Homo sapiens: one gene and its partner. The protein of the gene in region 1 interacts with the protein of each later gene in a pairwise test. Each region holds a gene or a part of one and is shown in the gene's direction. Other genes may lie near its edges.

The links. Proteins that work in one complex are often made in the same cells at the same time.
Region 2: the proteins of FAM25G (region 1) and ZFAND3 interact in a two-hybrid assay, tested with the Homo sapiens proteins (one large-scale study listed by BioGRID).

What each region holds. Positions count from the first base shown.
Region 1 is NC_000010.11:47,488,901-47,492,989, reverse strand, and holds the start of FAM25G (protein FAM25G), read left to right. Parts: upstream 1-1,289; 5' UTR 1,290-1,315; coding exon 1,316-1,388; intron 1,389-3,341; coding exon 3,342-3,404; intron 3,405-4,089.
Region 2 is NC_000006.12:38,151,727-38,155,124, forward strand, and holds the end of ZFAND3 (AN1-type zinc finger protein 3), read left to right. Parts: intron 1-508; coding exon 509-663; 3' UTR 664-2,898; downstream 2,899-3,398.

The sequences.
Region 1 (4,089 bases):
TCTCAGCTCCCGAGTCCCAGGCTGGGAGGGCCCACAGTCCAGTAAACTAATCAGGCCCCGACACATCCAGGAGAGCAGCTCCAGGAGCCTGCATTGGGGAGAGAGCCTCAGACCCCTGCCACAGGCCTGCACCCCAGAAGTAGGAGCATGGGAAGACCTCTCCTTGGCTCCTGGCCAGCAGAAGTCACATTCCCCAGCCCTCTGGCTCCAAGGCAGCCTCACGTCCCAGTCACTCCTTGGCACACCCTACCAGTTGGTCAGAGCTCACTGCCAAAGGGCACCTCAATGATGAGTGGAGGGAACAGGTGTTTACCAGGAGCTTGCATGCTTTGCCTCAGGGATGATTAGGGACACAGCCAAGAAGGCACGCTATGCCCATTTTACAGATGAGGAAACGGAGGCTCAGGTTGGGCTGGTGACTAAGGGAAGCAGCATGTGGCAGGTGGCTTGAGGCATGTCTGTCCATCATGAGTAACTAGGGAGCAGCCCTGCCACTCCTCATGCGATGCACCAGGAGCCAGGGAAGCTGCTTCCTAGGGGATTCTAGCTAAGGCCAGAAGCATCTCCCTGAGTGGTGGTGGAGGCCTCTGTCTACTCCTCCAGGACTGCCAGGGGATAGGAGGGCACTGCTGACCTCACAGAGCCTCTTGGGTGAGTGAGCATCAGCTGAGCGACACCAGGTGACTACGCTTCTGCCCAGTGCTGTGCCCCCCTCTGACTCGGGCAAGGCACCACCCTGAACGCCCCACCCTGTCCCATGGAGGCCGCAAACTGCTCTGCAGAGCCAGGGTCTCCAGGAATGGGGAGGGCAGTCACCCTCATTCCACTTGTGTTCATGACTCAAAGGACTGCCCAGGTCTCCAGGCCCATAGAACCCCCAAACCTCTTACTAGGCCACACTGGGGACCTTGAGCAGCAGGCTTGGAATCCTAGGCCTTGTCTCCAGGTACATATCAGTACCCAGGCTTGGGAAGCTTTGGTCTCAGGGGGGCTGGCACTCAGGCCCTCTGCCTCAAGGAAGAAGCATGTCCAGATCTCTACTGTCCAGCCCTGCTCCCTGCCCCTATCCTTCACGGGGTCCCTAGGACAGGGTTACAGAAGCCTCATGCTGTCAGGGGATGCTGCCACCCTAGTTCCAGGGTGGCTCCGCCCAGCCCCTTCCTGCTGCCGCCCTCACTGACTCACCTGTCCAGCCTCCTACTGGGCTGGGGTGAGGGCTTATTGCCCCAGAGCCTAGATAGGCACCAGAGGCAGCTATAAAAGCATGTTGGGCCAGTCCTCAGCATCCTAGTTCGCCACTGTCTGCTGCCACACGATGCTGGGAGGCCTGGGGAAGCTGGCTGCCGAGGGCCTGGCCCACCGCACCGAGAAGGCCACCGAGGGAGCCAGTGAGGACCCAGGGCTCCTTTCTACCTGGGCTGGGGGGATCTGGGGCAGACTGGGTCTGTGGGAGGCGGATCTACGTAGGCAGGCGAGGACCTGCGGGGAGGCCTTGGCCCCTCAGGAACCCTGGTCTCCTGCTCTACCAAGTCAGCACGGAGTTGAGGGGTGCAGACCTGGGGAGGTCTCCTGGGGGCAGGGCATGAGTCCTGGTGCTGGGTGAACACTGGCAGCTTGGACCCTTCCCTCTGGAAATCTGGGGAGCCTTTCTTGTCAAAACAGCCTATTCTGAATAACCTATGCAGGAAAAGGAAGATGGATTTTTATTTTTACCATAACTTTAAAGCTTCAAAGATTTCTTAACAAGTCACCAAGTCTGTTCAAAGTCAAAAAGGGCATTTTCAATTTCATCCAAGTCCCCTAAAGCATGTTTATTTTTATTTGTATTTGTATTTGAAATGGAGTCTTGCTCTGGCACCCAGGCTGGAGTGTAGTGGTGCGATCTCGGCTCACTGTAACCTTTGCCTCCTGGGTTCAAAGTGATTCTCATGCCTCAGCCTCCTGAGTAGCTGGGATTACAGGCACCCACCACCACGCCCGACTAATTTTTGTATTTTTAGCAGAGACGGGGTTTCGCCATTTTGGCCAGGCTGGTCTCAAACTCCTGACCTCAAGTGATCCATTCCTCTTGGCCTCCCAAAGTGCTGGGATTACAGGCGTGAACCACTGCACCTGGTCCCGAAGTGTATGTTGTATTCAGAGGTCAGCAGGTATGTGTGGGGAGGCCCAGCCAGGCCCCACTCATGGGTCATCGTGTGAAAAAGTCTTGCCTGAGTTTGTGTCCTCTTTCTAAATGGCAGCAGATGCGTATTTTGTTTTTGACTCTGCAGCTGGTGTGGACCACCTGCTTTAACCTTTCACTAGCCTCTGAGTTTTTTATGATTCCTGTTGGGAGAAAAGCTCAGCGTTGGGAGAAAAGCTGAGGCAGGGCTTGCTAGACTTGCTGGCTCCTTGCTTCTAGCACTGCCATTCTCTCAAGTAGCCATATGTTTCTCATTCACTTGATACACTGTTTCCTTTCAACCTCCACATCCTCACCACCTGTTTCTTTGTTAGATCACCAATAAATAGCGTGGGCTCCCAGAACTCGGGGCCTTCGCAGCCTCCACACTCGCGATAGCGCCCTGCTCCCATTTTCTCTCTCGAACTGTCTCTTTGTCATTCCTTTGACTCCGCTGGACTTGCCGCCCCCGTGACCTGGTGTTGGGTCTCATCATCCCAACAGATTCCCATTCTAAAGATGAGGGAACCAAGAGGTGGAAGGTAGAGTTAGAATAAGAACCATTTCTTCTGACTCTGAAATCCTTCAGTTCTAGCACGCTACCACCCACACTTTAAAAAACTCTGAAGTAGGCAGAGAATTCCGTTTTGTTGGAGGAATTGCTTTGAGAGACCTGGTCTTAGTGGATGAGGCTTTGGAAACCAACCTGAGGCAGGCGCTAGCACATCCTGAGAGGGGTGTGACCTGGCACACAGGCCCAGCCTGGGCTTCATGTCTCAGCTGGCAAGACTGCCTGCTCATTGCCATTCCAGGCCGGGCAGGGCCAAGGGGCTTCAGGGACCCATGCCCTCATGGGGCTCATTGAGCTCGTCTCCCAGCAGCCAAGGCCCTGGCGTCTCCAAATGAAGCCAGCTGTGGGGGAAGGTCCTTCTCATGAGTCAGTCTGTCCTGGCTGGGGGTGGCACCCCAGAGCCCCATCTAGGATGCCCAGGGATGTATAGGTCTGTTGTGAGGATAAGCCAGCCCTGAGCCCTCACCCTGGACTGGGAGGGCAGTGGGCCTGCTCTGAGCCCTCACCCTGGACTGGGAGGGCAGCGGCTCTGCTCTGAACCCTCACCCTGGACTCGGGGGCAGCCGGCCTGCTCTGAGCCCTCACCCTGGACTTGTCTCCTCTGTTCAGTTCATGCCGTGGAGGAAGTGGTGAAGGAGGTGGTGGGACATGCCAAGGAGACTGGAGAGAAAGGTACAGCCGGCTGAGGTCGGGCAGGGAAGGAGGGAGGGAGGAAGGGAAGCTAGGTGCTGGGCCAACCTGTTCTTTGACTAACCAGGTCAAACTCTGCCCCTAATGTTGCAGCCTTTCAGAGCCTCTTGGCTGGGGCAGTTATCTATGCTCATCAGAGGCCACAGACTGTACTGCGTTAGGACACTGTCTAGATGGTTCTCTCTGTGGAATAAGAAGACAAAGTCACACAAGACTATGTGACAGCACACTGGGACAAAACATTTAACATGGCAGGGTGCGGTGGCTCATGCCTGTAATCCCAGCACTTTGGGAGGCTGAGGAGGGCGGATCATGAGGTCAGGAGATCGAGACCATCCTGGCTAACACGGTGAAACCCCGTCTCTACTAAAAATACATAAAAATTAGCCGGGCATGGTGGTGGGTGCCTATAGTCCCAGCTACTTGGGAGGCTGAGGCAGGAGAATGGTGTGTACCTGGGAGGCAGAGCTTGCAGTGAGCCTAGATCATGCCACTGCACTCCAGCCTGGGCTACAGAGCAAGACTCGGTCTCAAAAAAAAAGAAAAAAATAATTGCTGGGGGCGGTGGCTCACGCCTGTAATCCCAGCACTTTGGGAGGCTGAGGTGGGCGGATCATGAGGTCAGGAGATCCAGACCACGGTGAAACCGCATCTCTACTAAAAATAC
Region 2 (3,398 bases), on another chromosome or scaffold:
ACTCATTTTTGGGTTGTGGTTTGATCACTCCCACCATCCTCTCAAGCCCCGGCTGTACAGGAGGTGGAATGTCATTTAAGACATAATCATTTCTCCTGCCTCCTAGAAATGGTGGGCATCCTGTGGTGGAAATCACAGTTTGCCCGAGCCAAGCAGAGAGCTGAGCTGACAGCCTGTGCTCTTCCGCCTGCATGGTGCTGGAGAGGAGCGCAGAGCCCACTCATTTGCAAGGACAGGGCTGTGTCTCGCAGCCATCAACTTAGGGTTCTACCCTTCAAGGGTCCAGGCAGGGACAGGCTTGAGCAGCTGTGGAATGCAAAGTGCTGACCCTCTTGCTCCAGGGTGCAGGTGTTGGAGTGAGCTCTCTGCTGCATCAGGAACCCCTGCAGTGAGTGTTGTCCACTCACTGGGATGCCCCTCCATCCTCTGGACAAAGGCAATTGTGAGGCTCTGCGCACTTGGAGGCCACCCTAACACACTCTTTCCTCTGCTTCTCCCGCTGCTGCAGGTTATGTGTTCTGTATGTTACATCGCCTCCCCGAGCAGCACGACTGCACATTCGACCACATGGGCCGTGGCCGGGAGGAAGCCATCATGAAAATGGTGAAGCTGGACCGGAAAGTGGGGCGCTCCTGCCAGCGCATCGGGGAGGGGTGCTCCTGAAGGCCAGGCATGGCCACCACGTGACGCTGTTCTTAGTTCACTAATGTTAGCCTTATTTAGGACAAAGTCAGCCAGACACCTTGTACTGGGCACGCGTCAGACTGCAGCCAGTCCGTTTCCTTTCTTTAGCCAGCCATCCTGGTACTGTAGTTTAGGGGTTGATGGTGGTTGAAATTGATTTCTGGCTGGTTACTAAGGTGCCTGCTAGCCATTGTATAAAATTAAAACATGAAGAATATTTTTTTTTTGAGCATGGCTAGTGGATTTAAAACAACACATACCTGTCACTGCTGGAGTCAAACTTATAAAAAGCCTTAAGTGGAAAGTGTTCCAGACGGAGACTCTGAGTTAATAGAGGAGTAGAAGCTGGTGTTAAAGTTCCCACGACGCACATGGCTTTGCCAGAAACTCTGTTTAATGATCGGCCTTTCACCTCTTCACTTATCCTTAGTCCCAGTAGCCAGGATACCTGATGGCCACGTGTGCCTTGGCCACGGGAGGCTGCTGAGATTGGCCACGTGGCTGGGCTGGGTGGTGGCCTCACTCTCCCACAGAGCTGGAAATGGGGGGTGGGGGACAGATTCTTACGGAAATTTTTTTACCTGACTTGCTATGAAAAAACTCATCACACAAGAAGAGAAACAGTAACCTCACTTTGAAAATTAGCTCCACTCAAGACTAGTCCACGAACGAGACCCGCCTTTTCTACACAGGATCCAAGGTCACGAGAAGCAGCCAGAGTGCCCCGCCTCCGCCGGCTCTGGTCTGCCATTCGCCAGTGCAGGGATCTGGCACGGACCAGATGTGGCGAATGGCAGCACAGCGCGGTGGCTGGGTCTGCACACTGGCCTCTGCAGCCAGATTTCTATATTGGGAGTTTTTTAAAAAGACATTTCATAGCCAACAAGAATCAGTAGAAGTGCTGGGAGCAGCAGCTGGGGAAGCTGCCGCCCACGGGCTCTGCCCCTTCCAGCTGGAGCCGCCCGTGCCTCCAGGGGCCAAGAGGATGATGTCGTGGCCTCCATTCTCGTTTCTATGCAGCCCCATAGTCCAAGGACACCCAGTCCACATCTACCATATAGCAAGTTTAGTAAGGGAAGGCAGCATACGTCCCAGGGACAGTGGGTTTGGATCTGTCTAGAACAGCGGTTTGTGGCTGTGGCCCAGCTCCGAGAGTGATATTTGCTCTGGTAGGTGAGGGCCTGAGGGTACATTTCTCCACCTGTGCCCCCTCATGTTCACAGAGGATTTCAGCAGCTGCAACTGCGCACGCCAGGTGGGGAAGGGTGGGGGTGGGCCTGGTTGCCCCATGTTAGGAAATCACTACCAGTCAGGTGGGGCTGGGGCTGGGTGGACAGGATCAGGATTCCCTTGAAAGCCCAGGCAGGGTGAGCAGTCCCAGTGGTCCTAGTGCCGCATCAGATCCAGGTGGGTGAGGGCAGGAGGCCCCTGCGGAGGCAGCGTGGATCTGCCCACACATAGGCTACTGGAATAGTTTAACCCAGCAACTTTCCTTTTTATAAAACAACAAATGGTTCAACTCTGTCTGCAAATTAACAGCTGAACACCTGCAACTGCAAATGTTTTTTGATCCGACGTACTGAAATAGGAAGTCATGCTCTTCCCACCCTCCACCCACCAGAGTGGAACCCGCTGCAAAATCCCCAGCCTTAATTCTTGCTTCAGGACCCAGACCGGTGTCTTGCTCTAGGGCAACCCAGGGCAGAGGGGCCAGGTCTGCCCAGCGTTTACCACTGCTGTCAAGCCACAGCCCTTGGCCACCATACGGGCCATCCTCAGTGAGGCAGCCCCCCATAGGCTTCCGCCAAGCTCTGGTCCCGAAGAGGCTGTGCGAGCCCTTCCCGGCCCTCCCCAGGGCCCCCCGCCCCCTCCTCTGCCTGCTGCGTGGAGGCAGCCATGGGAAGGAGCCCAGGGGAGCTGGCCTGGGGGAGCGAAGCCCATGTTCGCTTCCTGACTTAGAGCTGGGGGGGGTGGGGGGTGGGGCTTGTTCCCCTGCAGTATCTGTTCTGTGAAGTTTGTTAAATGTAAGGAAAGCTTAAATTCTTGTATCTTTAAAAGAGAAAATCTTATTTAACCCTTTTGTGTTCTAGATTTACTTACACACATAGCCTAGAGCTCAGTTTTAGTTTTAACATTGTGAAAATATTAAAAGAATCTTGTAACTTTATTCTTTTTTCTCCTGCTGAAAAAAAAAATTAAACCAATCGTATGAAAGTTTGGTTTTCTTGTTTCACCCCTTCTCCTAAGTGCCCCCTGGGTTGCTGGGAAAACTGACCCATCTCCCTGGCCAGGGCTGGAAAGAGATGGGGGCCTGTGTGCAGAGACCGTCTGCAGTACTTGGAGGCACTCGTCCAGTTAGTGTCCAGGCTAAACAGCCGCTTCCTTGCTTTCTGTTGGGAGCCTCTGCCCTGGGAAGCTGCGGGACTGGCCTTGGGGTAAAGGTGGGTCTGCAGGGCCAAGCCTGTGCCAGCAGCCAGGAGGTTACACACTGGGGGGGATCAGAAAACGAGCCCCAGCCCTGAGGGCCCCAGGCGTGGGTGGGGTGGGTGCTGGGTCCTGAGGGAAGGCAGCATGCCCTAGACCCGAACCCCACCCTAGGAAGGGCCTCCAGGATGGATGACGAAGGCTCCCAAAGGCTGGCTTGGAGGAGGTGTGTGCTGTGGCACTCTTTGGTGTATAGGATGAACTTAACTACATTTTTAAATGTTCAAAAA